Homo sapiens: one gene and its partners. The protein of the gene in region 3 binds, or shares a complex with, the protein of the main gene of each other region. Each region holds a gene or a part of one and is shown on either strand. Other genes may lie near its edges. The genes, in order: EIF4EBP1, ZFYVE28, RPTOR and MTOR. A codon is read from its position in the direction of its gene.

Region 1 (7,175 bases), on a different chromosome or scaffold from region 3:
GAGACCAAGAGGATAGAGGGAACTCCCAGGCTTCCAGCTGTCCCCAGCAATGCCCCAGATGTATGGGTAAGACCATCTTGGAGCTTCCACCCCAGGACAGTCCAGCTGTACACTGTATGCAGCCATATGAGTAAGCTCAGCAAGATCTACAAAGAACCCAACGAACCCAAAAGATGGAGAACAATAACAAATCGCTGCTGTTTAGTTACTGTTTGGGGATGGCTTGTTATATAGCAATAGCTAACTGATACAACCATTTTCACCAAGTGTCCCTGCACACCTAAGAAGCCCTGATCCTCTGGGCCTAGTATCTGAGCTCTCTTAATGAGCTTTCATGGGCATAACCATCAGATTACATGGAGCCCTTTGCTGTGCATACCCAAATGTCAGTGAGCAGCAGTTACTTACTCTTGCCTTGTCAGCAATGCTGGATGCAAACAGGTAAATAAACAGCATCAGTCACAGTGTCTGAGACCCCGGCCCCAATACTGGCTTGTTCAGTGTAAGAAAAAGTTGCCAGATGCAGTGGCTCACATCTGTAATCCCAATGCTTTGGGAGGTTGAGGCAGGAGGATTGCCTGAGGCCAGGAGTTCAAGACCAGCCTGGGCAACATAGACCTCATCTCTACAAAAAATAAAAATTAGCCAGGTGTGGTAGCATGTGCCTGTGGTCCCAGCTACTCGGGAAGCTGAGGCAGGAAGATTGCTTGAGCCCAGGAGCTCAAAGTTACAGTGAGTGGTGATCGCGCCACTGTACTTCAGCCCATAGACACTCCAGCCTGGGCCACAGAGGTGAGGCCCTATCTGTTAAAAGTTTTTTGTTTTTGCTTTTTAAAAAAAAGAAAAAAAGTCACATCCACTCCCTGTTCGGTAATATTGGGACAAGAAATACCAGCAATACTGTTTAATACAAATGTTCCTTGACTTAAAATGAAGTATGTCCCAATAAATCCACCATACATAGAAAATATCTTAAGTCAAAAATGCATTTAGGGCCAGGTGCAGTGGCTCACGCCTGTAATTCCAGCACTTTGGGAGGCTGAGGCGGGCAGATCACTTGAGGTCAGGAGTTTGAGACCAGCCTGGCCAACATGGTGAAACCCCATCTCTACTAAAAATACAAATTAGCTGGGTGTGGTGGCACACGCCTATAATCCCAGCTACTCAAGAGGCTGAGGCAGGAGAATGGCTTGAACCTGGGAGGCAGAGGCTGTAGTGAGCAGAGATTGCACCACTGCACTCCAGCCTGGGCGATAGAGCAACACTCCAACTCAAAAAAAAAAAAAAAAAAAAAGTATTTAGTACACCTAACCTACTGAACATTATAGCTTAGCCTTCCCTACCTTAAATGTGCTCAGAACACTTACATTAGCCTACAGTTGGACAAAACCACCTGGCAACACAGCACACTATAGACTCTATAGTGGGCTGTCCAATCTTCTGGCTTCCCTGGGCCACACTGGAAGAAGAATTGTCTTGGACTACACATAAAATACACTAACACTGGCTGGGTGTGGTGGCTCACGCCTGTAATCCCAACACTTTGGGAGGACGAGGTGGGCGGATCACCTGAGCTTGGGAGTTCGAGACCAGCCTGACCAATATAGAGAAACACCATTTCTACTAAAAATACAAAATTAGCTGGGTGTGGTTGCGCGTGCCTGTAATCCCAGCTACTCAGGAGGCTGAGGCAGGAGAATCACTTGAACCTGGGAGGCAGAGGTTGCAGTGAGCCGAGATTGTGCCATTGCACTCCAGCTGAGCTTAAAAAAAAAAAAAAAAGAAAGAAATTTCATAATGTTTTAAGGAAGTTTACGGACTTGTATTGGGCCTCATTCAAAGCTGTCCAGAGTGCATGTGGCCTGAGGGTCTCGGGTTGGACAAGCTTGTGACTGGCCATTTGTCCTCATGTTTGTGGGGCTAAATGGGAGCTGCAGCTCACTGTCCCTGCTGAGCATCTCGAGAGCATGTACCTCGTATCGCTGGCCCAGAAACAGATCAAAATTCACAATTCAATGTACAATTTCTAGGCTGGGCGTGGTGGCGCACACCTGTAATCCCAGCTACTTGAGAGACTGAGGTGGGAGGATTGCTTGAGCCTGAGAGGCGGAGGTTGCAGTGAGCCGATATCATGCCAATGCACTCTAATGTAGGTAATAGAACAAGACTCTGCCTTTTTTTTTTTTTTTGAGATGGAGTCTTGCTCTGTCTCCCAGGCTGGAGTGCAGTGGCGTGATCTCGGCTCACTGCAACCTCTGTCTCCCGGGTTCAAGCGATTCTTCTGCCTCAGCCTCCTGAGTAGCTGGGAGTACAGGTGTGTGCCACCACACCTGGCTAATTTTTTGTACTTTTAGTAGAGACGGGGTTTCACCATGTTAGCCAGGATGGTCTCTATCTCTTGACCTCGTGATCCACCCACCTCAGCCTCCCAAAGTGCTGGGATTACAGGCATGAGCCACCGTGTCCGGCCAAGAATCTGTCTTAAAACAATTTTTAAAAGTACAATTCCTACTGAACACATATCACTTTCATACCATCGTAAAGTCAAAAATTGTAGTCACACCATCATAATCGGGGACTATCTGTATGAGGATAAGTAGGAGGGTTCAGAGAAGGTTATTCTCTGGCTGGTCCAGTGGCTCACGCCTGTAATCCCAGTGTTTTGGGAGGCTGAGGTGGTGGATCTCTTGAGCCCAGGAGTTCCAGACCAGCCTGGGCAACATGACAAAACTCTGTCACTACTAAAAATTTAAAGATTAGCCAGGCGTGGTGGTGTGTGCCTGTAGTCCCAGCTACTGGAGAGGCTGAGGCAAAAGGATCACCTGAGCTCAGGGGGTTGAGACTGCAGTGAGGCATGATCGTGCCACTGTACTCCAACCTGCAACAGAGTAAGACTTTGTCTCAAAAAACAAACAAACAAAAAACAGACAACATCATCAAAACAGAGAAAGTTAGTTTCTGCCCCTGGGACATTCTGAGATAAACACTTATACCCTGCAACTGAAAGGACAGAAAAGGAAATTTAAACGTCATCATTAAGCCAGCGGAGACTCAGGCCTGACAGTAAGAAAACTAGGTTATCCTGACCAGGCATGGTAGCTCACGCCTGTAATCCCAGCATTTTGGGAGGTCGAGGCGGGTGGATCACAAGGTCAGGAGATTGAGACCATCCTGGCCAACATGGTAAACCCCGTCTCTACTAAAAATACAAAAATTAGCTGGGTGTGGTGGTGCGTGCCTGTAATCCCAGCTACTCAGGAGGCGAGGCAGGAGAGTCACTTGAACCAGGGAGGTGGAGGTTGCAGTGAGCTGAGATCATGCCACTGCACTCCAGCCTGGGCGACAGAGCAAGACTCAGTCTCAAAAATAAATAAATAAATAAAATAAGAAAACTAGGTTATCCTGAGGGGAACGCTTTCATTCCAGCATTCTTTTCAACTCTTCACCTTCCAGACACTAGACCTGGCATTAGGTCATGTGGATACAAAGATGAGTAAGACTGCTCAGAAAAAATTTCCTGGCTAACCTAGGGAACAAACACGTAAACAAAAACGTGTGATTCATTCGCTATGAATCATAATGGAGAGAGACCCCAGGCATGGGTCTAAGTCAGACCAGAAAGAAACAGGTTTTTCATGGGTTTGTTGGCACAGGCAAGAATCTATGTGCACAACTGAACATTTTTTTTTTTTAAAACTCACCTTAGAAAGCAATGTTCCTTTTTTTCAATATTGCTGTGCCTTCCCAGGCCAAGCACAGTGGAGCATGCCTCTAATCCCAGAACTTTGGGAGGTCAAGGCGGGTGGATTACTTGAGCTCAGGAGTTTGAGGCCAGCCTGGGCAACATGGCGAAACCTCATCTCTACCAAAAAATACAAAAATTAGCCGGTTGTGGTGGTGCATGCCTGTAGTCCCAGCTACTTGGGAGGCTGAGATGGGAGGATTGCTTGAGCCCAGGAGGTTGAGGCTGCAACTGCACTCCAGCCTGGGTGACAAAGTGAGACCCTGTTTCAAATTAAAAAAAAAAGAAGAAACAATATTGCTGTGCCTTCCTAACTCATCTTCCAGAACATGAAAATAAAGGTCTATATGAGAAAATGCCTCGCTACTTTATGTCAATGGATAAATATGGTATTGCTCTGCTGACCCTTTTTCCTCAGATTTGGCAATGAAGGACTTTTTTGGTCTTTTAGGAAGCAAAAAAATCAAACTCTCTCTCTTTTTTCTTTGAGACGGAGTTTCACTCTTGTCACCCAGAATCGTTCGAGTGAGTCTCGTGCCTCAGCCTCCTGTGTAGCTGGGATTACAGGCGCCTGCCACCAGGCCCGGCTAATTTTTTTTTGTATTTTTATTAGAGATGGGGTTTCACCATGTTGGCCAAGCTGGTCTTGAACTCCTGACCTCAGGTGATCTGCTTAGCCTCCCAAAGTGCTGGGATTACAGGTGTGAGCCATCGCACCTGGCCTCTCCTTTCAAATAATAAAAAACTAGAGGGTCAGACTCAGAAGCAAAGCATGACCCTGTCTCTACAAAAATAAATAGCCGGGTTTGTGGTCCCAGCTACTCGGGAGGCCGAGGCAGGAGAATTGCTTGAACTCAGGAGGCGGATGCTGCAGTGAGCTGAGACGGTGCCACTGCACTCCAGCCTGGGTGACAGAATGAGACTCTGCCTCAAAAATAAAATAAAATAGGCCGGGCGCGGTGACTCATGGCTGTAATGTCAGCACTTTGGGAGGCTGAGGCGGGCGGATCACGAGGTCAGGAGTTCGAGACCAGCCTGGCCAACGTGGTGAAACCCCATCTCTACTAAAAATACAAAAAATTAGCCAGGCGTGGTAGCGCGCCTGTAAACCCAGCTATTCGGGAGGCTGAGGCAGGAGAATTGCTTGAACCCAGGAGGTGGAGGTTGCAGTGAGCCGAGATCGCACCATTGCACTCCAGCCTGGGCGACAGAGCAAGGCTCCATCTTGAGGAAAATAATAATAAATAAATAAATAAATAAATAATTAGCTGGGCATGGTGGTGCGTGCCTGTCATCCCAGCTACCCGGGATTCTCCTGTCTCAGCCTGAACCTGGCAGGTGGAGGCTGCAGTGAGCTGAAATCATGCCACTGCACTCTAGCCTGGGCGACAGAGTTAGACTGCCTCAAAAATAAAATAAAATAAAATAAAATAATAAGGCCGGGTGTGGTGGCTCATGCCTGTAATCCCAGCACTTTGGGAAGCTGAGGCGGGTGGATCACCTGAGGTCAGGAGTTTGAGACCAGCCTGACTAACATGGTGAAACCCTGTCTCTAATAAAAATACAAAAATTAGCCGGGTGTGGTGGCACATGCCTGTAATCCCAGCTACTTGGGAGGCTGAGGCAGGAGAATCACTTGAACCCAGGAGGCGTAGGTTGCAGTGTGCCAAGATTGCACCACTGCACTCCAGCCTGGGCAACAAGAGCGAAACTCTGTCTCAAAATAATAATAATAATAAAAAGGAGTCTGGGGATTGGAGGGATTTTGGAGTGCTCTACACCAGGAACCCCCCACCAAATCTTTAATAAGGGACACAGTGTGGAATGCTTCCAACACTTTAAAAAATTTTATTTATTTAATTTATACCGACAGAGTCTCACTATGTTGCTCAGGCTGGTCTTGAACTCCTGGCCTCAAGTAATTTTCCTGTCTCAGCCTTCCTAATAGCTGGGATTACAGGAGTGAGCCACCGCACCCAGCTCCTTCAAACACTTTAAAAGGAAGCTCAGGTAAATGTGAGAAGAGGGTCCATCGTTTCTCCCTCACTGCATTAATGTCCAAGCTCTTTTAACCCATCCTTAATAATTTCTTCCCTCCATGTGACTAAGGCCTCAGGACATGGGCTGTGCTCTGGCTTTGGTGCCCAGCCTACATCCCCTTCTTCCCAGCACTGCCTGTTTCATGTCCAAAGACTTGGGAGCTGCTCCAAGGTAAGCTTCCTGGGCACAGACCTTGTTTGCTTAACCAAACAGGGTGCCATTAACACCTGCAGCCCTACCTGCTCACCTCGGATTCACCTTATCCAGGTACGGGTCTTTGGCACAACTGCCATCCAAGCCTGTATATAGGCTTCAGAGTCAAACATGCAACACGGAGCTGGGAATGTGGAGATTGATGAGGGAAAGTTTCTTTCTGACCCACTCAAAGGTTCTGCTGGCTAATGAGCTGTTTATGGTGTCGCTGGATATTTTTAAGACTCCACAGACTCAAATATTCATACATGACACTCCCTTCGGCAATTAAATTATCTTAAGTACTCTGGACAGCTAACCTCAGAGCAGAGCCTCAGTGTGCAAATGGTTAATGACCATGGAAAGCAAACTGGAGGCCAGGTGAGGTGACTCATGCCTACAATCCCAGCAGTTTGGGAGGCTGAGGTGGGAGGACTGCTTGAGCCCAGGAGTTTGAGGCCAGCCTGGGTAATACATAGAGACCCTGCCTCTACAAAAAAATAAAAAAATTAGCAGGGCATGGTGGCACGTGCCTATAGTCCCAGCTACTTGCAAGGCTGAGGCAGGAGGATCACTTGAGCCCAGGAGTTTGAGACTGCAGTGAGCTATGTTTGTGCCACTGTACTCCAGCCTGGGTGACACCATGAGACCCTGTCTCAGGAAAAAAACAAAAAAAGGGCCGGGTGCAGTGGCTCACGCCTGTAATCCCAGTACTTTGGGAGGCCAATGCAGGCGGATCACGAGGTCAGGAGATCGAGACCATCCTGGCTAACACGGTGAAACCCTGTCTCTACTAAAAACACAAAAAATCAGCCGGGCTTGATCGCGGGCGCCTGTAGTCCCAGCTACTTGGGAGGCTGAGGCAAGAGAATGGCGTGAACCCGGGAGGCGGAGCTTGCAGTGAGCCAAGATCTCACCATTGCACTCCAGCTTGGGCGACAAAGCGAAACTCCATCTCAAAAAAAAAAAAAAAAAAAAAGGAAAGCAAACTGGAGTCATAGGAATGGAGATAGTGCAACCCAACTGCTGCTTCTTTCCCTCCAGGGACAATCACTTGAGGGCCATTCCCAGCAGGAGTGACTGGGGGGTACTTACTCCAATGGTTTTTCCTGAGAAGCTGACAGTCCCTATAAGTAAGCAGGTGCAGACAGCCATGCAGACACTCTATCAAAAGCCTGGCTCTCCACACCACGATTTAGAG
Region 2 (7,175 bases), on a different chromosome or scaffold from region 3:
GGAGGTCGCGGTGAGCTGAGATCGTGCCACTGCACTCCAGCCTGGGCAACAGAGTGAGACTCCGTCTCAGAAAATAAATAAATAAATAAATAAATCACTAACTCTAATTTTTTCTTATGGAAGCTGATTTAGAAAATTTGGGGAAGACAAGAAAATAAAACTCGACTGTCCGTGCTCTTGCTTCCTGCAGAGGACTGCCCTTAATGCATTGGTTGATCTCCTAGGGGCCAGTAGATTACAAGATGAAAAACTTATTAACTGAACCTCTGCGGACACCATCTGCCTCCGTGTTTTGTTTGTTGTGGTTGTTGTTGTTTTGAGATGCAGTCTCGCTCTCTCGCCCAGGCTGGAATGCAGTGGCTGGATCGCAGCTCACTGTAGCCTCTGCCTCCCGGGTTCAAGCGGTTCTCTTGCCTCAGCTTCCTGAGTGGCGCGCCACCAGGCCCGGCTAATTTTTTGTATTTTTTTTAGTAGAGATGGGGTGTCACCGTGTTAGCCAGGATGGTCTCGATCTTCTGACCTCATGATCCGCCTGCCTCGGCCTCTCAACGTGCTGGGATTACAGGCGTGAGCCACCGCACCCGCCTGGCTGCCTCTGTTTTCTTCTCACCTGTGACGTCTCTTCATCTTCCGAGGCATCATGCATGTCTGGCCCCTCGGGCCTCTCCAAAGCCCTTCCCCTGGAGGCCCACGGCGGCCAGATCCACACCTGTGTCCTCTGTGCTCACCCCACTCCCTGGAAAGATGCCCCACCTCACCTCCACGCTATGCTCTCCAGGGCTTAACCCCACCCACAGGCGGCCCTGAACCTGCCTGGCTCCTCCCTCTGTGGAATTTTCCAGCTTGAAGTATCAGGGTGAGCCCCGGAAGCTGGCACAACCGTCCCCCAGCTCATACAGCCAGGGCTGTGGACCCACAGCTGCAGTACCTGAGCTCAAACTCTGCGAACAGGACGTCGAAGTGCCTCAGCGCTTCCCTCATCTTCTCTGTGTAGGTGTTCAGGTCCCGCAGCGCCTGGTCACGGAGGGCGCCCCGCACGTCCTCCAGGCTGCGCGTCAGCTCCTTGGCCAGCGGGCGCATGGCCATGCTCTCCAGCTCCCGGTTCATGATGATGGAGCCGGCGGCCAGGCACTGCGGGAGGGGACACACTCAGGGAGGGGCCCGGGTGAGGGCCAGGCTCTCAGGGGTCGCCGACCCGGGGAACCTGACTGCGCACCTCGGGGCCCCTCTTCTCACCCCACAGCACAGGCCAGCTCGTGTTCCCGGTCCCCGCAGGAGGTTTTTCTTACATTCAGAGCAATCGTGAGGGCGATAACCGATGTCCCCCAATGTGACCCACGGGGTCCTCACAGGGCCCCAGGAGCAGGGAGGGCAGGGCATGGCAGGGCAGGTAAGGGCAGGGGAGGGGAGGGCAGGGGAGGGGAGGGGAGGGGAAGGTGGACTGAGGCCCTTGGGTCTGGGGGCTCCCTGCAGGAGGAACCCTGGTCATGTGACTCTTTTCCGCTCCCCGTCCAGGCCACAGGGATGAAGTTCAAGGAGCTTGGAGCTTCCAGGCTCCACAATCAGGTCTGTGCTCCCAGGGATGAAGCAGCCGGGCTGATCCGGGCCCGAGGTCCCCAGCCTATCTAGGGAGCCACAGACACCACCTGTCAAGTTGCTCACTGCCAGAGAAACGCAACCTTCCCCGGAACGCAGACTCATCAGTGTGAGAGTCCCTGGGCTCCTGGGCAGGTAAGGAGGGCTCCTCCGCACCCACAAATCCACCCATGTCTGCCCTGGGTGCTGCGAGGCAGCTCCCCAGCGTGCGCTCAGCAACTGGGAATTTCACCAAGCTGCCCTCTGGCACAGGGGCTGAGTCCAGGCCCTGGTAGACCTGTTGTCACAGGGAGGCTTGTCTAGAGGCCGGGGCCTCGCCAGGTTTAGGATAGAACCAATCCACCTGCTGTCCCCTCAGGGATGATCAAGTGATGCAGGACAAGAAGCCATTTCCCAGGTGACAGAATGAGACGGCGCTGATCGCCCAGGCCCAAGCTGCAGGTGGGCACAGAGCTTGGGGCACCAGGACCACACAAGGAGCTGTGCCCACCCCTGTGCATGCATGCCCCTGCCAGGCCAGCCGGGCACAGAACACGCTCCATCTCATGACTGCCCCAGGACCCACTCCACGGAGGTGGAAACTGAGGCTGGGGAGGAGGGAGAACCTGCCCGCGGGCCCCTGTAACTAACCCAAGCCTCGGCAGAGGACACCCCAACCAGGTGGCTCAGAAGGTGGGGTGGGCAGGGTGGACACAGGGACGGGGCAGCGTGGGATGAAGACTCCGCACCCCAGGGATTCCTAGAAAGGGGAGGCGGGCAGGATGGGGACGGCACAATAGAGAGGGTGGCGGTGTCGGGGCTGAGGTCAGGCTCGGGAGCACGGCAAGGGGAGGAGGCTGGGGAGTCCGCATGGTGGGGGCCTGGGGGAGACTGTTCCCGCCACCTTGAAGGGCACCTTCCTCTCGGTGCCTCAGTTTCCTGATTGGGAGATGAAGATGAAGATGACAGGCTATTGCCACATGTGGCCTGCGTGGGGCTGCAGCACGGCTCCCCAGCCCCTGCTGCTGCCCATGCTGCAGGGCCGGAGGGGAACACTTGTTCCTGATGTGGGCATTACTGCCATTAAAAACCACTTTTAGGTCCTGGCTGTCTGGGGGCCTGTGAACCTCATAAAAACCACATGGGAAATTTCATTTGTATGTATAGTTTTGGGGGCACCAGTTCATGGCTTTCCCAGATCCTCCAGGGGTGCACGGCCTACCAGGCTCAGACCACACCACGTAACCCAGAGTGGACGGAGCTCTTGGAGGAGACACCAGGTCCCGGCACCTGCAGGCGCCCATGCACAAGGTTCGCAGGGACTTGGCTAGACGCCACCCCACATCAGGACCTCCGAACCCGGGTGGCCACCCGCTACCTCGGCACCGAACCACAGCTGGCCGGCCAGGTTGTCGTGCCGGATCTCCTCAGGGAACTTGACGCAGAAATCTCTGGGGGCGCGGTCCTGGGGGATGCACTCATCCATGATCTGGTTAATGATGTTCAACACATTGTCCTGAAACAGAAGACAGGAGAAAGTGCGCCAATCGCTGTGTCCAGCTGGCGGCCGCCATGTACTGCTGGAAAACACGCACGGTGCATGTGACTGTTTTTTAGGATTATTAAAGTGATAGAGGAGGCTAGGCACGGTGGCTCATGCCTATAATGCCAGCACTTTGGGAGGCCGAGGCGGGTGGTTTACCTGAGGTTAGGAGTTTGAGACCAGCCTGGCCAACATGGCGAAACCCCATCTCTACTAAAAATACAAAAATTAGCCGGGCGTGGTAGCGCACACCTGTAATCCCAGCTATTAGGGAGGCTGAGGCAGGAGAATCACTTGAACCAGGGAGGCAGAGGTTGCAGTGAGCCGAGATGGTGCCATCGCACTCCAGCCAGGGCAATAAAGAGCAGCAACCGCAGGAGCCATGGGCTCAGACGGACTCTCAGTCGGCTGGGGACCTGCAAAGCCCTCGTCTTCCCTGAAGCTCAGTGCATTCCTCTGTAGAGTCAGGGACACAGACCACGTCTTAGGGTCAGAAGAGTGCAGTTACGTCAAGGCCAGGCACAGCTGGGGCCTGCTCCTCCATCCAGGGTGGCGTCCCCTCCCACCTCCTCTGGAACCAGCAGATCAATTACAGCAACGCATAAGTCAGTCTGCACTGGAAGGGGGTGCTGCTTTCACAACATGGAGACCCTGACTCCATCCCTCATGGCTGTTCAACGAGGGACAGGTCACTTCGCCTCTCTGATCAGCCAGGTCCCCTTCTGTAAGCCTCAATACACAGCAACTTCTGGCTTTTTGTTTATTTTTAGAGGCAGGGTCTGGCTTTGTCACTCAGGCTGGAGTGAAGTGGCGCAATCATAGCTTACGACAGCCTCAAACTCCAGGGCTCCAGCCATCCTCCAGCCTCAGCCTCCCGAGCGGCTGGGATTACCAGAGTGAGCCAGCATCCCTGGAAGCAGCTTCTACTTTAAAGACTCTTTAAAATTATTTTACTTTATTTCCTTATGTTCAAAATATAAAGTATAACAGAGTGTTTTGAACACTTTGTGTATATGAGGGAGAAGAAGCCCATTTTTTTACATCTTAAATTGCATTCCATCCTTTTCTGTAAATTTGTCCTATTCTTTAAACATTGACTATTCATTCTGTAGGTTACAAAAACACTGGAAGTTTAACTTTTGCTTTAATTTGTTAAATATGAAATCAATACACGTTCATCCTAGGAAAACTGGAACCAATGGGAAAGGAGAGAAGTGGGGAAAATGTCCTTGGGGAAATATGACCGCAGGTGGGACACAGTTCCTTCTAATTCTCATCTTCCGAGGGCCTGTTTTCAGCCAACGTTGAGACGATCCATGTACGTAATACTGCCTTCTGCTGTTGTAGCTGCTGCAACATGTTATTACATCTGTCACATATACAATTTTTGATGGATAGTGACATGCAATTCCAGCATATGGACCGTCCTGTTAACTCACTCCTTTGTCTTCTGCTGGACACTGACGATGTGCCTAATCCTCCACCTCCACGCAATGCTGCCCTCACTACTGTGGTGCACGATGCTCCGAGTGTGGATTACTTCCTTAGGACCCACTGATTGCTAGAAATGGAATTACAATGTCAAAAGTGCAAACTGCGTTTCCAGGCTCTAATGAGATACTGCCAAATGGCTTTCCAGAAAGAGCACACTAATTGACACTCTCACCTTGGCAATTTTTAATCTCGACCATCCCTCCTGAGGCTTGACTTTCATTTTTCTTAGGAAGAGATACGAAAACTCACTATGAGTGGGGAAGCATGACCCTTCTCAGGCAAGAAATCATGCACTAAACTCTGAAGGAAATTCTGCACTGTAAGAAAAATGTTAAGCCTTTATAATACAAAAAATAAAAATAAAATTCAACCAATAAGTGGGACTACTGTCACTTCTTTTTAAAAGGTTTTCTGGGTAGGAAGGTCCCTTGCTCATGATTCAACAAACAAATGAGCAAACAATGGCAATCACAGCAACAGGCGGTGCACAGTAAGCCCCAGCTGTGATGAAGAAGAGTCCAGGATCTGAGGCTCAGCCAGGTGGCACAGCTTGTCTAAGGCTGTAGTGCTCAGCCCAGGTGGCACAGCTTGCCCAAGGCTGAGGAGCTTTTAGTGCTCAGCCCAGGTGGCACAGCTTGCCCAAGGCTGAGGAGCCTTTCATGGCCGTGCTTGGATTCATTGCCCAGCCTTCCTGGTCTGCTAGAACATAGCTGCCTGAGGGAAGGGTCTTCTGTTATTCACGATGAGTCTCCAGTGCCTAGAACAGTGCCTCACACACAGTATGCTGCAAGAAACACTTGCTAGGACTTCTAACGCCAGCCAAGATGGAGTAATAGGAACCCAGTTTACCCCACTCCCAAGAACAACAGTGATTTCCATGACACTGGACATCAGGCCACAAAGGACAGTGATCCCCAAGAGACAGGAAACAAACAAGGTGAGCCCCATGACTACCCCAGCTCACTGCCTTGAGGAAAGTTTCAAGTCATGGAACAGGAGAGGGAACTCGGATGGAACCAAGGCAGTTAGGATTCAGAGAGCAGGAGGCAGAGAAGAGAGAGCTGGACAGAGAGAACTCTGGAGATCTGGGGAAGGTTTCAAGGGTTCAGCCGAGAACTGATCAACACATGCCTGTGGGGAGATGACCTAAGTTCAGGAAAGACGCACCTGAATGATTTGAGGGAGCAGTGACAGGAGCTCTCCAGGAGGCTAGAGTAGCAGGAGCACTCACAATTCACAAAGTATTGAGTAGAGTACCCAAAAGTGTTCTGCCTCCATGTGAACAGCAGTTAACTCTAGACTAAACACAGCTCTGGTCCTGCCTAACACCTTAAAAATAAGACCCAAAGGAATAAACTGTTTCTAAGTAACTAAACTACATCACGGAACAACCAAAAATATTTACAGTAATACAAAAATAGCCCCCAGCAGGGTGAAATTCACTATGTCAGGTACCCAATTAAAAAATTACCAAGTTTGGCTGGGTGCAGTGGCTCACGCCTGTAATCCCAGCACTTTGTGAGGCCAAGGTGGGTGGATCACCTGAGGTCGGGAGTTCGAGACCAGCCAGGCCAACATGGAGAAACCCCGTCTCTACTAAAAATACACAATTAGCCGGGTGTGGTGGCGAATGCCTATAATCCCAACTACTCAGGAGGCTGAGGCAGGAGAATCGCTTGAACCTGGGAGGTGGAGATTGCGGTGAGCTGAGATCATGCCATTGCACTCCAGCCTGGGCAATATGAGCAAAAAAAACTCTGTCTCAAAAACAAAAAACAAAAACAAAACAAAACGGCCAGGCGCGGTGGCTCACGCCTGTAATCCCAGCACTTGGGGAAGCCGAGGTGGGTAGATCACGAGGTCAGGAGATTGAGACCATCCTGGCTAACACAGTGAAACCCCGTCTCTACTAAAAATACAAAAAAAATAGCCGGGCACCTGTAGTCCCAGCTACTTGGGAGGCTGAGGCAGGAGAATGGCATGAACCCAGGAGACAGAGCTTGCAGTGAGCTGAGATCACACCACTGCACTCCAGACTGGGCAACAGAGTGAGACTCCATCTCAAAAAAAAGAAAAAAAAATTACCAAGCTTGCAAAGAATGAAGAAAATATGACCCATGACTAAAAGGAAAAGCAATCAATCAAAATCAAGCCAGACTTGACAAAGATGATCAGGGACATTAAGACGGTTGTTATAACTGATTCCCATGTGTTCAAAAAGTTAACTAGAGACAACGAAGAAACTAAAAGTCCCTAACTGATTTAGAGATGAAAATTACAGTGTCTGAGATGAAAAAATATACTGCATGAGATTAACCTCAGATTCAATATTTCAGAAAAAAAGAAGAGTAAACTTGAAGACAGCAACTGAAACTATCCCAACAATTCAGAAATAATAATAGATCATCAATGAACTGCTGGACAACTTCAAAGATCAAATATGGATGTAATTCAAGTCCCAAAACGAGGAGGAATGAGATAGAAAAAAATATTTGGAGGAATAATGGCCAAAATTTTTCCAAATTTAATAAATATAAACTCATAGAACCAAGTAAATGAACCC
Region 3 (7,059 bases):
TCACAAGTAGCTGGGACCACAGGTATAAATATTAAATTTTTTTTTTTGGTAGAGACAGGGTCTCACTATTTTGCCCAGGCTGGTCATGACCGTTTTCATAGCTTGAATCAAACCAGGTTTGTGTGTTTTCTGAGATTCCTAACATTTTGTTTTTAAGATTAAAGTATTTTAGCTGGACACGGTGGCTCATGCCTGTAATCCCAGCACTTTGGGAGGCCAAGGCGGGTGGATCGCCTGAGGTCAGGAGTTCAAGACCAGCCTGGCCAACATGGTGAAACCCCGTCTATACTAAAATTACAAAAATTAGCCAGGCGTGGTGGCGGGCACCTGTAATCCCAGCTACTCGGGAGGCTGAGGCAGGAAAATCGCCTGAACCCGGGAGGCGGAGGTTGCAGCGAGCCAAGATTGCGCCACTGCACTCCAGCCTGGGCGACAAGAGCAAGACTCTGTCTCAAAAAAAAAAAAAAAAAAAAAGGATCTTATTTAAAGTCTCTGTGGACAATAGATGTCCTTGCTTGTGAAGAACTGGAGACATTGGAAATTGGAACTGCAGCCCCGAGTGGCCAGCCCACCACATGCCACAGTCATGGAATCACCCAGGTGAGACAAGTCAGCCCTTGAATTTCCAGGCTGCCATTACTCACAGATGCTCACTGCCTTTCAAAAACCTAGAGCCACTTCCAAATGCTTGGCTGGGACTTGAAGAGAATCATCCGTGACATACTAGAACGAGGTTTCTTTTAAATGTCAAGATGCCATAAAATGATTCAGGCCCATCCTTGAACCTTCAGGGTGAGAGCTGAGCAGTCACAAGCCCCTTTCTGGTCTTTACATGAATCACAGAATTTCAAACTGGAAGGATCCTTAGAAATTCGCCTTCTCCAAGTTCCTGATGTCACAGACGTGGAGACCAAGGGTGGAGGAGGGCAGAGGCTTTGCTGAAATCTGCAGGAATTGGTGGCAGGTTGGGGACCATAGAATGTGTGTGTGTCTTCATCCTCAGTCCAGGACCCGAGTGGACCCCTGGCTCGGGGTCACATGTGTTAAACAGTAGAGGGTGTGTTTTGTTCTGCTGTTTTGAGGAGAAGGTGAGTCTCTTTCTGCTTTGTCAGATGGAAGTCTGGACAATTACTTCATAGCATTCATTCATTTGCCACACATATTGATTAAGGGCCCAATATGGGACCCGAACTGAATCACTGCAGGAGACTTTAGAGCGAATATTGTCTAAGACCTCCAAGTCTGCCTGGCTGTGAACTATCCTCAGAGCGACCTGATTTAAGAATTCAGATTCTGGCTCTCTTCCTTGGCGCTGCCTATGGAGGGGGCAGCCATCTCCTCCTTGGCATCATGGCCGCCCTCAGACCCCCTGTGAAGCCCAAGATCATCAAAAAGAGAACCAAGAAGTTCATCCGGCACCAGTCAGACCGATGTGTCACGATTAAGCGTAACTGGCAGAAACCCAGAGGTATTGACAACAGGGTTGGTAGAAGGTTCAAGGGCCAGATCTTGATGCCCAACATTGGTTATGGGAGCAACAAAAAAACAAAGCACACGCTGCCCACTGGCTTCTGGAAGTTCAGTCTACAACGTCAAGGAGCTGGAAGTGCTGCTGATGTACAACACTTCTTACTGCGCTGAGATCGCTCACAGTGTTTCCTCCAGGAACCGCGAAGCCACCACAGAAAGAGCCGCCCAGCTGGCCATCAGAGTCACTGACCCCCATGCCAGTCTGCGCAGTGAAGAAAACGAGCAGACAGCTCATGTGCATGTTTTGTGTTTAAATAAAACTGTAAAAACTGCAAAAAAAAAAAAATGCAGATTCTGAATCCCGGTCTCCCTGCTCCCCGATCTGGGGCTCTGGGTTGGAAGCTGGGCATCCTGAATTTTAGTTTCCTGGGCGATTCTGACCACCTGGTGGGTTTGGACTTCAACGTGCTCACTGACACCTTCGTTTAGAATTTCAGATACGAAAAATGGATTTCCCAAGGTCACACACGTTATAGGTGAGGAAACTGAGTCTCACACAGATTCAGTGGGCTTTCCCAGGTCACAGAGCTAGTTAGGGATGAATGGGTTTAGCGTTGCTGCTTTTCTGTAACTGTGACTTCCTGCAAGAGCTGCTGGAATGCAGCTGTCTACAGCCACCGGAGGTGGGGAGCAAGGTGACAAGGCAGAGGACAGGAGTGATTTTGTTGCCTTCAGATGAGAACGGGGTCTTCCTAAGACCCTGCATCCCTGAAGCCTCTGCTGGTAACTGTGAGGATAGTCTCTGCCAACAGAGAGGGTGCCCTGAGTTTCAATAGGAGAATTGGCTCCATGGGGTGTAATAACCAAACGAATGTGCGGAATGACAATGATTTAATCCTGTAGCCTTTATTAAAGGCTTGCTTTGTGCTGGGTGAGAAAGGTCTGGGATTGTATTCTTCATTCTCATTTTGAAAGGAACACAAATGCCATCAAGATTTTGATATGGATGGCCACATGTGTCTAAGCCCCGGAAAACCATCCTGAGAGATCAAGACCATCTTGGCCAGGATGGTCTTGAACTCCTGACCTCATGATCCACCCACCTCAGCCTCCCAAAGTGCTGGGATTACAGGCGTGCACCACCACGCCTGGCCTCGTTTTATTCTTATTTATTTATTTATTTATTTATTTATTTTTGAGATGGAATCTCACTCTGTCACCCAGGCTGGAATGCAGTGGTGTAATCTCGGCTCACTGCAACCTCTGCCTCCCAGGTTCCAGCTCTTCTCCTGCCTCAGCCTCCCGAGCAGCTGAGACTACAGACGCACGCCACCACGCCCAGCTAATTTTTGTATTTTTATTAGAGACGGCGTTTCACCATGTTGGCCAGGCTGGTCTCGAACTCCTGAACTCGTGATCCACCCTCCTCGGCTTCCCAAAGGGCTAGGATTATAGGCGTGAGCCACGGTGCCCTGCCTACATTTGGTTTTATAGTCCACCTTACACAGTTCTCTATACATTGTAAATGAGCCAAATTTCCTGAATTGAAAAAGAGAGTCACACAAGAGGCTTGCCTCCACGCACAGACATGTAGTTTTAGATGTCTGCACGTGAAGCTATATCAAAATAAGAATAAACTACTGCTACCAAGAAGTGGGAAAAAAATTTAAAAAGGATAAACTGCTCAGAAAACGAAACAGATTAAACAAAAAATTGTATTAGATGAAATTTTTTTTCATCGAATCTTGCTCCAGACTCTTCTTCTGTTGCTTCAGACCCTTCTTCATCTGAAGAGTCTTGCTCTGTCTCCCAGGCTGGAGTGCAGTGGCACGATCTTGGCCCACTGCAACCTCCGCCTCCCGGGTTCAAGCAATTCTCCTGCCTCAGCCTCCTGAGTAGCTGGGATTACAGGCGCGCACCACCACGCCCAGCTAATTTGTGTATTTTTAGTAGGGACGGGGTTTCACCATGTTGGCCAGGCTGGTCTCGATCTCTTGACCTCGTGATCTGCCCGCTTCGGCCTCCCAAAGTGCTGGGATTACAGGCGTGAGCCACGGCGCCCGGCCTTTCACTTGGTTCTCTATGAAAAAATTAAAGAGAAAATCTGATTGACACTGTGGAGGACACTACACTCCAAAAAAAAAAGTACTATATTTTCTAATATTATCAGTGCTTTTTAATATTTTCTAATATTATCAGTGAAGCTTTTGCCGCTTTTTCAAAATCTGGAAGAAACAAGGCGGTTGATTCCTTTAATTTCAGGAGCATGTAACTTCATTTATAATGACAATGTTTTTGAAAAAATAAATTAAACCGACAGTTTCATTTGTAGGATTGACTTTAATAACACGCCTCTACTGAACAAATGGCGATTAACTGGGGAAAACGGAATTATGGTAACCGAGGTAACGGGGTCGGGGACTCTTTCTCCTTCGCTGCATGCTGGGTGGCGGGGAGAGACCGCTCTGAGGAGGTTTGGTCTGTCGGCCACGCCGTAGGCCGCGGTGCATTCTGGGTCCTGGCAATATGGCGTCCTCCTTGATGGGCTGATGAGATGAGTTTCACTGTAGCTCCAAACCAGAGGGCAAAGCTCCCATGACCCAATAAGCCCACATTGTCCCTTTCCTCCGTGGTTCCGTGTCGCCCGTTTCTCAGGACTCGTTCTCAGGCAGGAGAGAGCCTCGGGGCTGAAGGCCAGGACCAGCCAGGCCGCGCGGACCTGAGGTTGAGGAACCGGGTGCAGGCGAGCACGATGGGCCGGTCGTGGCTCTGGTTGCAGCAGCTCAGACGAGTGCGGGACCCGCAGGGCTGAGAGTGGCTGGAGGAGACCCAGGGCCCTTTGAACCCGATCCCTTGGCCGGAGACCTCAGCCCAGTCGGCCCAGTGGGCGAACCGGCACCAAGAGCGGCCTGCCTGTCTTCGGAACTGCTGAGGCGGTGGAGGCCGAGAGCAGGGTCATCGTGAGGCCTGAAGTCTCTTACGCTTTTGGCAGCTCCCCTCGCAGCCCCTCTGGAAACGTACAGCCTCAGGAGCAGCCAGTGGCTTGGGACCTGGGGTGGTGTGTGTCTGCGGAGCTTCTTGGGCTGCCCCATTTCCTAGCGGCCCCCACCTCCCCACTTCCCGCTCAGAGTTAGAGATAAGGATCTCAGACTTTTGCCTGAGTAAGGGTCTCCGCACTCTTTATCCATTTGGTTTTCGATTTCCCGTTTTTGTTTCTTATTTCACCAATTCTGGTACACGCTAGTTTTTAAGGCTGGAGGTTCTCGAGCGCTTGCTGCCAAGGACTCCCCCACCCCCTCCCCCACTGATGGAGTCCGAAATGCTGCAATCGCCTCTTCTGGGCCTGGGGGAGGAAGATGAGGCTGATCTTACAGACTGGAACCTACCTTTGGCTTTTATGAAAAAGAGGCACTGTGAGAAAATTGAAGGCTCCAAATCCTTAGCTCAGAGCTGGAGGATGAAGGATCGGGTAAGTGGATTCTGAAGGCACCCCTTGAACTTGGTAGTTTCCCCAACAAAGAAAGTTTACAGCCCGAAAAGTGTCCTTGGGAAAGCGCCGACATTTCCCCCTAGCCACACGTTGTAAGTCAACTAGAAAGCAAAAGCCATTTCAGACTGCAGTTTTTGGTTGAAAATGGAAAATGCTGTTTTGGTTAGTCATTATTCACTGGGTAGTGTTAATTCAATTCCAACTAAGTTCTAATTCAGATAATAAAAGTTAAGCAAATTTGAAAATAGAGCATTGCGAGTATTTACATGCTCTTTGGCATACTACTTAGTTCTGTAAACACTTAGAGGAAGGACAACGTGCGATATAATCTTTATACCCACATGATTAGTCTACTTTTTAAAATATCCAAGCTGGGTGAAGTGCAGAAGTCTGATATACTATGCTAGGAAATGAGATTACTGGAAAATGTTCAACTAGTAACAAATTAGTGCAAAGTTATTATAAAGTTACACTGAACTTCATTCTAGTCTTCTAAACAATTTCTCTTGAAGCTAGATTTTCCTCCTTTTATGTAGTGTCCTGTTGCTGTAACTTGGAAACAGGATTTCTTTAATCGTGAGTTAGGGTATGAGGCGTCGAGACTTGGGTGCAGGTTTTAGGGTGTCCGCATGGTGTTTGGAGTGTGGAGAGTGACTCACAAGCAGCTGGTAGGAAAGAAAACAGCCGAATTTTGTTGGATTTGTCCTTCATAAAACACCCATCTATTTCCTGGCCTCAAAAGCAAAAGGGTAGTACTGCTTCTCCTCTATGCACACTTATAATTTGTCTTTTTGTAAGTTATTTTCTCCCTCCAGGCTGCTTTTATTTGCACATTTCAGTGGTATAAAAGAGGAAGTTGGTGTTACAATGTTTGATTTTCTCTAGGCTTATGTATATGTTTATGGAATATTATTGTTTTTTAGTATATGATGTTGAACATATATAAGATTACACTTCTGGGCTGGGCGCGGTGGCTCACGCCTGTAATCTCAGCACTTTGGGAGGCCAAGGCAGGCCTCCCAAAGGCAGGCGGATCACCTGAGGTCAGGAGTTTGAGACCAGCCCGGCCAACATGGTGAAACCCTGTCTGTACTAAAAATACAAAAATTAGCTGGGCTTGGTGGCAGGTGCCCGTAATCCCAGCTACTCGAGAAGCTGAGGCTGGAGAATCGCTTGAACCTGGGAGGCAGAGGTTGCAGTGAGCCGAAATCGCACCATTGCACTCCAGCCTAGGGGACAGAGTGAGACTGTGTCTCAAAAATAAATAAATAAATAAAACTTCTGGTAACTCTAGTCAGTCAGTCAGTAGTAACCAGTTAGCTACTGACTTGGCTTACTTCTAAAAGGTTAGGAAAATTTGTTTCATCCAAAAGCATTTTAAGGAGTTAAATAAGTTAGTCATTGGGGGAGGTTGTATAAATTCTATCTTATGGACATCTTTAGTAGTAACTATATAGTTAAAAGCTTTTGTGGTTGCTATACATATATGAAAAGACTTTTTAAAAAATTCTTTGTGGAGGGCAGTTTTTTTGTTGTTGTTATTTTGAAATGTGGTTCTCTCTGCTGTCCTAAACCTATGTTCCAACAGTTTGAAACTGATTAATGGGTATACGTTTGACCTTTTAATTAAAACATTAATTTGTGAATGATCAACATTCCCTAATAAGCTTTTCACAGGTTGTTAAGAGAAACAAAAGTTCTGTGACTCTTAGTGACTACTGAGATTGCTGCTTAGAAAGGAGCTGGGGAGAAAGTTTGCTGTATCTGTTTTTCGGTGGAGAAAATCAGCAGCTAACATCTTCAGTTGAGTGTGTGGGAGTTTGGAATCTTGTCATCTCTTCCCTCTTCCAAAGGTCAGGTCCTTTGGAATCTTGTCATCTCTTCCCTCAAGGACCGTATCACACATGCTATAGGACAGAAGTTGCAAACTCAAATGATATTGAGTGGGGATGGTAGCATAAGAGAATGAAACAGGCCACATTTAAGAAGAATAATGGCATAGGTTCAAAGATAAAGACAAATGGCAGCTGACATTTGGCACAGTGTGTGTGACAGTTTCTGGAGGGTGGGAACAGGGGCTCCCTGATGCCATAACTGAA
Region 4 (7,175 bases), on a different chromosome or scaffold from region 3:
AAGAGCCCAATGAGGTAGGTAAGAGCCCCTGTCCAAAGGGAGAAAAATGAGGCTAAACAGGTAACTTGCCTGAGTCGCACAGTCATCAGAGCGGTGGGGATCTGAAGCCAGACTCCTCCTGCTTCTGCACACTGCTGCATGCGCTGCTCCCACATCTGGGCATGGCTATTATCTAACAAGCACTGTGTCTATTATAAGCAGGAATCCCCGGGGTAAAATTTCACAGCTCATTTTCTACAGCCAGTCTCACAGATGGAGCTTTACCTCCCAAATATATCCTGAATCAACTACTTCTCAGTATCTGTGCCACCACTCCTAGTCAAAGCCACCACTGTCACTCACCCAGACTACCGTAATAGCTTCGTCTGGCAGCCGTGAGAATGCAACCTCCAACTACAAGGCGCATAACCAAGGGCCCCAGCTGCTGCTCTGAAACCCATCACTAAGTTTGTGCCAACGTCACCCATTGCTCCCAGCCAATGACAGAACACAGTAGGGATGCTAAGGCTATCCTGCTCTTGGGAGACACAGACCTCTCTGACAGCCAACTTTGGCTTGAGGACCCCGCGGTGGCCCTGCAGAGTAGGCTAGAACACTTCTATCCGAATTTTACCCTCTTGCTTACTCAGGGTCAGATGTGCATTGTGGTCCGATGCTTCTCCCAGCTTCCTCCCCATATTCTCTTGAAGGCTGTTTCCCTAATAAAATCCATGCACTTTTAAATCCACCTTCTCAAGCCAACACATCTCCTAATTGGTCTCCCTGCTTTCATTCCTGCCTTTCCCCACATTTTTTCCTATAAGCAGTCAGTGATTGTTAGAAACGCATGACATCACATTATTCGCCTGTGTGCATACTTCCAATGTTTACCCCTGTGAAAGCTCGTGTTTACTGTGAACCGTGGGCCTATTAATTTGGCCCCTCCTTCCCTCTCCCTTGCTCCCGGTACACCAGCCATACTTCCCTTTCTTCTGTTTCATCAATGTCTCACACTCTTCCACCTCAAAGCCTCAGCCTGGAACACAGTCCCCCGGCCTGCTGCAAGGTAGCTCCTTCGTGTCATGTGGACCCCCGTCAAATAACACCACCTCAGGGAGGGCCTTCCTTGACCCTCCACTCACCCCCTCCCCATCACTCTCTATTCTATTCTGGTTTGACTTTCTTCATAGAACTTGCTGCTATCTGAAATTATCTTATTTACTTATTTATTATGTTTCCTGCCACAAAATGTCAGCTCCATGAGGACATGGATCTCGCCTTGCCTCGCTCACAGAATGGTACACGGGGAGCCTGGACTCCCCTCTGCCGTGGCTTCTCACCTCTCCCTCCATGCTGCTGATTCGGACCAGCTCGTTAAGGATCAACAAGGCTCCATGGATCCGATCATCCCGATTCATGCCCTTCTCTTTGGCCAAGGTCTCATCAAATCCCTTCTCTGCTTCTTCAAATGTGTGCTATGTAGAGAGACAGGGTGCCTTCATTAGAGACAGAGTACAAACCCAGAAAGAATACAGGCCCATCCCATCTACACTGGGGGTTCTGAGGTGCTACCACGCCTGCTCAGTGCCTAGTGCCAGTCATCAACAAAACTAACTGATCAATCTCTTTTATTTAATTCAGCTTCAATTTTTTTTTTTTGAGATGGAGTCTTGCTCTATTGCCCAGGCTGGAGTGCAGTGGCGCAATCTCGGCTCTCCACAACCTCCACCTCCTGGGTTCAAGTGATTCTCCTGCCTCAGCCCCCTGAGTAGCTGAGATTACAGGCACACACTACCACGCCTGGCTAATTTTTGTATTTTTAGTAGAGACAGGGCTTCACCATGTTAACCAGGCTGGTCTCAAACTCCTGACCTCAAGTGATCCACCCATCTCAGCCTCCCAAAGTGCTGTGATTACAGGTGTAAGCCACCACGCCCAGCCCCAGCTTCAATTCTCATAATAAGCCTTTGAGGAAGATACCATCATCATCCCTATTTAACAGCTAAAAACACAGGCTCAAAGAATTTAAGTGACTTGTCCAAGATCACACAGCAAAGGCAAGACTGGAACCCGCATCTCCCAATCCCATGTTCAGAGCTCTTTTTCTAATATAAGACTCACTGATAAGTTCCCTCTGCAGCAGTAATCAGCACAGGCCTCATTATACTAGAGCAGAGAGAAATGGCACTTTCTAAATTAGTATCATTTGTATCTCACTGATTTTGAGACACCTATTTTTCCGTATTTTAACATCTCTGAAAAGAGATGTCTTTTTTTTTTTTTTGAGACAGAGTCTCACTCTGTTGTCAAGTCTGGAGTGCAGTGGCATGATCATGACTCACTGCAGCCTTGATCTCTTGGGCTCAAGCAATTCTCCCGCCTCAGCCTCCCAAATAGCTGGGACCACAGGCGTGTAACACCAGGCCCAGCTAATTTTTTTATTTTTTGTAGAGACGGGATCCCACATGCTGCCCAGGCTGGTCTCAAACTCCTGAGCTCAAGCAATCCTCCTGCCTTGGCCTCCCAAAATGTTGGGATTACAGGCGTGAGCATCCAGCTGAGATGTCTTATAATTAATTATTAATAAGAAGAAGGTACAAAGTTGGCCGGGCACAGTGGCTCATGCCTGTAATCCCAGCACTTTGGGAGGTCAAGGCAGGTGGATCATGAGGTCAAGAGATCAAGACCATCCTGGCCAATATGGTGAAACCCTGTCTCTACTAAAAACACAAAAATTGGCTGGGCGTGATGGCACATGCCTGTAGTCCCAGCTACTCGGGAGGCTGAGGCAGGAGAATCACTTGAACCCAGGAGGCAGAGGCTACAGTGAGACAAAATCACACCACTAAACTCCAGCTTGGTGACAGAACAAGACTCCATCTCCAAAAAAAAAAAAAAAAAAAAAAAAAAAGAAAGAGGTACCAAGTCACAGTTTAATTGGCATATTTGCATTCTTAGTCATACATAAAATAATGTATAGAATAATGGTATGGCTATCAATAGATGTTTGCTTTAATAAAATGCAATAAAGTAACTATTGATTCATACTGAGCATAAAAAATTCATTGGAGGCCAGGCGCGGTAGCTCATGTCTGTAATCCCAGCACTTTGAGAGGCCAAGGCAGGTGGATCACCTGAGGTCAGGAATTCGAGACCAGCCTGGCCAACATGGCAAAACCCTGTCTCTATTACAAAAATTAGCTGGGCGTGGTGGCACACGCCTGTAGTCCTAGCTATTCGGGAGGCTAAGGTGGGAGAAAATCGCTTGAACCCAAGAGGCGGAGGTTGCAGTGAGCCGAGATTGCGCCACTGCACTCCAGCCTGGGCGACAAAGCAAGACTCCATCACAAAAAAAAAAAAAAAAAAATTCATTTGAGAGCAAACCAAAACGTGATTCTTGCTCCATGGCAAGGGCTTGTGGCTGCCCTTTAGGCCAGGTGATTCTCTACGCAGATGTGCTTTGCTAGTGGTGGGAATGGAGCCATCTCCTTACCCTGTACCACTGAGGCTTCTGCATCTCCTTCGGCTCACGCTGGGTTGTGAGAATCAGACAGGCACGAAGGGCGGCTACAGCTCCCTCACGGATGGCCTGTTTGGGGTCCCACACGGCCACAAAAATGTTGTCAAAGAAGGGTTGCACTTGCTGGAAGAAGAAGGTAGGGACGCTGATGGCCAGCTCACGGAGAACCAGGACCTGGAGAAAAAAGCAAACCGAGAACTCTCATTGGTACCAGAGTTTTGTTCTCTCAGGAGTACAGTCTCTTGTCATCTTAGAGCCATACACACCAGGAACAGAGAAGGCTTGCTCACTCTTCTAGCTAGGAAATTCTGAGGACAGAGGAAGGAAAGCAAAATTGATTAAACATCTCAGTGCTCATTATCCTAGGTTGTTTACAAACACAGAATGCTTGTAATGTTTGAACATAAGTTCTGGAAGTGCAGATGTGTTTTATGTTTTCTTTACCACTATACTAACAGCCTAGAACTCTACCTGGAATACAGTAGGTATGTAGTAAATATTTACTGAATGGATAATCCTGTTTAATGTTTAATCCTGTTGTTATTTTTATTTGACAGAGGAAGAAACTGAAGGTCAGAAGCTGCCCCAGGTTACAGAGTTAGGTAGGAAGTTGCAAAGCCAAGACTTGAGCCAGGGTCCAAGTGTGTGTCCTTTTCCTGGTACCGTGCCCCCTCCTCACAGTACTGCCTCCTCCGAAGGGCAGCAGACTGGAAAGCACGCAGCTGATGCTTCTGATCCCCACCACACCATGCTAGATTCCCTCTTAAGGACGGACTCTACCCCATCTCACAGCCTGGAATCCTAGCTCTTCTAACCAGCTTTTTTAAGGAATGAGCCTCAGAAGGAAGCAAAAGACCCCCCCATGACACCATCGTTCCCCAAGCCTGGCTGTGCTCCTCCCTGTAGACACTCACAGCTGCATGTCTCCGGCCCTCATTGCGGTCAGCACCCAGCCATTCCAGGGCTCGCTTCACCTCAAATTCCACGTACTCAGCGGTAAAAGTGTCCCCTGCCATGGCAAGACGGCCAATGGCCTTGGATGCCATTTCCATGACAACTGGGTCATTGGAGGGGAGGAGGTTCCGAAGATAGTTGGCAAATCTGCCAATTCGGGTGGCATTCCCACCTTCCACTCCTATGAGGCTAGCTGCAAAAGAGAGGAAGGCAAAAGGTGATGATGGGGCGTATGCTGGCCAGGAAAGTACGCAGACTTCAACTAAAAGCTGGTGAGTGCCGGCCAGGCACGGTGGCTCAAGTCTGTAATCCTAGCACTTTGGGAGGCTGAGGCGGGCGGATTGCCTGAGCTCAGGAGTTTGAGACCAGCCTGGGCAACATGGTGAAACCCCGTCTCTACTAAGATACAAAAAAAAAAAAAAAAAAAAGAAAACAAAAAAATTAGCCAGGCGTGGTGGCACACGCCTGTAATCCCAGCTACTTGGGAGGCTGAGGCAGGAGAATTGCTTGGACCTGGGAGGCAGAGGTTGCAGTAAGCCGAGACTGCACCATTGCACTCCAGCCTGGGCGACAGAGTGAGACTCTGTCTCAGAGAAAAAAAAAAAAAAAAAAAAAAAAATCTGGCGAGTGAACCCTCCATTCTACTTTGAGTACATTTCTAGATGGCAAGGACAGATACAATTTTCATTTTAACCCAGATATTTAATACTTGTGCCAGAAATATTTACATAAAGCAAAATAATCTCATGCTAGTATAATTTTCTCCCCTACCCCCCAAAAAGGGAAAACAACTGGGACTGGATAATAATTCACAGGACTGATGACCAGTCCTTAGAAGTTAAAAATGACCTGCCTGGCCAGTTGTGGTGGCTCACACCTGTAATCCCAGCACTCTGGGAGGCTGAGGTGGGCAGATCACTTGAGGTCAGGAGTTCGAGACCAGCCTGGCCAACATGGTGAAACCCTGTCTCTACTGAAAATACAAACATTAGCTGGGCATGGTGGCAGGTGCCTGTAATCCCAGCTACTCGGGAGGCTGAGGCACGAGAATCGCTTGAACCCAGGAGGCGGAGGTTGCAGCAAGCCAAGATTGCACCACTGAACTCCAGCCCCGGCAAGAGTGAGACTCCATCTCAAAAAAAAAAAAAAGACCTGCCTTTTATTAACTATACCGATTCCACTTTTCCATTCGTGAGCCCCACTATGCGAAACCCTGCTCTACTGAGGAAGCAGAGCCCACAAAAGGCAATATGAAGGAGTGGAAAGAAAGCTGGCTTCTAGTCTCAGCTCTGGTAAACTGTCTGAAAAGTCACTCGATGGTTCCGAGACTCCACTTCCACATCTAAAAATACGTTTTTCCTGTGGCCCAGGGCTGCTGCTAGAATTAAAAGCCACGGGCTTCTTAAATTTCATTAAGCAAATATGAACTAGTATCCAGTAAGTGGCAGACACAGGGTGCAGTGGGCACAAAGGTGAGTGTGTTGTTTTTGTGACCAGAGACTCTGTCCTTACCTATGGCCAAGATGCCACCTTTCCTCTCATTGGCATCTGAGCTGGAAACCAATTCAAAAATGTGATGGTTCAGTTGGTCATAGAAGCGAGTAGACTCCTCTTGACTCATCTGCAAAAGAAGATATAATCAGAACAATTTCTAATAATTCTCTAACTGTGGTGGTGGGAGTGGGCTGGCATCTAAAGATTAGATCCTGAGAGGCAGGAGGTATAGTTCAAACCAAAGAAGACAAGTTACTGCCCATTTCTATAGGATTACACTGTAGAGTACCTGAACTTGCAATCATCTGATTATTTAACAAATATTTATTAGGTATCTACTCTGTGGCAGAAAATGTCCTGTCCTAGGTTCTTTCTAGTACCAGGGATAAAAGGAGAAACAAGATACTGTCTCTGACCTCAAGTCTGGTCTCTATTTAGAAAGCCCCTAGCTCTCAACTCTCCAAACCCATCCCAATCACTGTTATCAGACAGAAAGCATTTGAGGGTGTGGTATGTGGTAAGGAAAAAATAAAAAGTTAAAAGAAACAGCTAAGTCTATTCTGGCCCCTAAAATGTGACCACAAACAAGAAAAATGCTACAAAAATGTGCAACTGCTGCAAAAGAACCTGCATGTTTTATGGATGTGACAGGTTGGGTGCCTTTATAAAATAATCTCTGTTTTCCAAATCCTCACTTAGCTGTACAAAAAAAAATGTAAACCAGTGATGGTACATTTAGCCCACACATCCCACAATGACTGGCCCCAGATCCCAGAAGCACCTCTCGGAGTTCCATGGTGACATAGTGCTGGAGCTCCTTGGCGGCTTTGGCCCTGGTTTCCTCATTCCGGCTCTTTAGGCCACTGGCAAACTGCTGCAGGACGCTCACATTGCTAGATGTGGTGGCAGCGGTGGTGGCGGCGGCAGGTCCGGTTCCAAGCATCTTGCCCTGAGGTTCTTTAGAGAGAAGTTTCCTTTAATATTCTGGATAAGAAAGTATGATGATAAATTTACTTATGGCCCTGGTCACCCAACACAGATCTCCCCCTAGCCCTTGTCAGGCAGGGGATTCTAAAAAGGTTGAGAGATCTGATTGAGGAACATTTAGAAAGCCTAGATTCATTAAACAATGACTGATGTTTAAAAGAGGCAGTGTAGTAGGGAGGTTAAATTGTGGGCTATCGGCCTAGCCTACTTGGGTTTGAATCCTTGGGTTATATACCTTGAG

The links.
Region 1: the proteins of RPTOR (region 3) and EIF4EBP1 are in contact, whole or in part, in a cryo-EM structure (PDB 6BCX), measured with the Homo sapiens proteins. Residues at the interface, in NP_065812.1 of Homo sapiens: Arg54 (codon at 4,937), Arg305, Thr317, Asp321, Phe337, Arg338, Leu341, Ala344, Arg348, Leu437, Gln438, Leu440, Leu441, Ser442, Gln443, Arg446, Tyr475, Lys478, Leu479, Gln481; in NP_004086.1 of Homo sapiens: Glu111, Ser112, Gln113, Phe114, Glu115, Met116, Asp117, Ile118.
Region 2: the proteins of RPTOR (region 3) and ZFYVE28 are in contact, whole or in part, in a cryo-EM structure (PDB 9F43), measured with the Homo sapiens proteins. Residues at the interface, in NP_065812.1 of Homo sapiens: Arg54 (codon at 4,937), Arg305, Arg306, Thr317, Asp321, Phe337, Arg338, Leu341, Ala344, Arg348, Leu437, Gln438, Leu440, Leu441, Ser442, Gln443, Arg446, Pro474, Tyr475, Lys478, Leu479, Gln481, Ser482, Ser483, Ala484; in NP_066023.2 of Homo sapiens: Arg399, Val400, Phe401, Phe402, Met403, Asp404, Asp405, Val406, Glu407.
Region 4: the proteins of RPTOR (region 3) and MTOR are in contact, whole or in part, in a cryo-EM structure (PDB 6BCU), measured with the Homo sapiens proteins. Residues at the interface, in NP_065812.1 of Homo sapiens: Phe278, Lys282, Cys283, Ser285, Leu286, Pro288, Gln380, Ala381, Asp383, Leu384, Asp387, Glu411, Gln412, Thr414, Ala415, Val418, Trp419, Thr421, Met422, Arg427, Asn428, Glu431, Gln432, Lys973, Ile974, Asp979, Leu980, Glu981, Ser982, Lys986; in NP_001373429.1 of Homo sapiens: His597, Thr600, Pro632, Val644, Ser645, Gln646, Thr647, Ala648, Val649, Ala653, His686, Ala688, Gln689, Glu691, Met721, Asn722, Pro723, Ala724, Phe725, Met727, Pro728, Phe729, Arg731, Lys732, Leu734, Ile735, Leu738, Thr739, His743, Tyr771.

The regions. Positions count from the first base shown.
Region 1 is NC_000008.11:38,033,522-38,040,696, reverse strand, and holds part of EIF4EBP1 (eukaryotic translation initiation factor 4E-binding protein 1), read right to left. Parts: intron 1-7,175. UniProt on the Homo sapiens protein: Repressor of translation initiation that regulates EIF4E activity by preventing its assembly into the eIF4F complex: hypophosphorylated form competes with EIF4G1/EIF4G3 and strongly binds to EIF4E, leading to repress translation.
Region 2 is NC_000004.12:2,338,525-2,345,699, forward strand, and holds part of ZFYVE28 (lateral signaling target protein 2 homolog), read right to left. Parts: exon of another isoform or gene 3,092-7,175; coding exon 2,954-3,091; exon of another isoform or gene 1,516-2,953; intron 1,391-1,515; exon of another isoform or gene 1,244-1,390; intron 1,132-1,243; coding exon 929-1,131; intron 1-928. UniProt on the Homo sapiens protein: Negative regulator of epidermal growth factor receptor (EGFR) signaling. Acts by promoting EGFR degradation in endosomes when not monoubiquitinated.
Region 3 is NC_000017.11:80,540,853-80,547,911, forward strand, and holds the start of RPTOR (regulatory-associated protein of mTOR), read left to right. Parts: upstream 1-3,985; 5' UTR 3,986-4,777; coding exon 4,778-4,939; intron 4,940-7,059. UniProt on the Homo sapiens protein: Component of the mechanistic target of rapamycin complex 1 (mTORC1), an evolutionarily conserved central nutrient sensor that stimulates anabolic reactions and macromolecule biosynthesis to promote cellular biomass generation and growth.
Region 4 is NC_000001.11:11,252,520-11,259,694, forward strand, and holds part of MTOR (serine/threonine-protein kinase mTOR), read right to left. Parts: intron 6,932-7,175; exon of another isoform or gene 6,905-6,931; 5' UTR 6,891-6,904; coding exon 6,729-6,890; intron 6,075-6,728; coding exon 5,966-6,074; intron 4,647-5,965; coding exon 4,414-4,646; intron 3,674-4,413; coding exon 3,473-3,673; intron 1,455-3,472; coding exon 1,320-1,454; intron 1-1,319. UniProt on the Homo sapiens protein: Serine/threonine protein kinase which is a central regulator of cellular metabolism, growth and survival in response to hormones, growth factors, nutrients, energy and stress signals.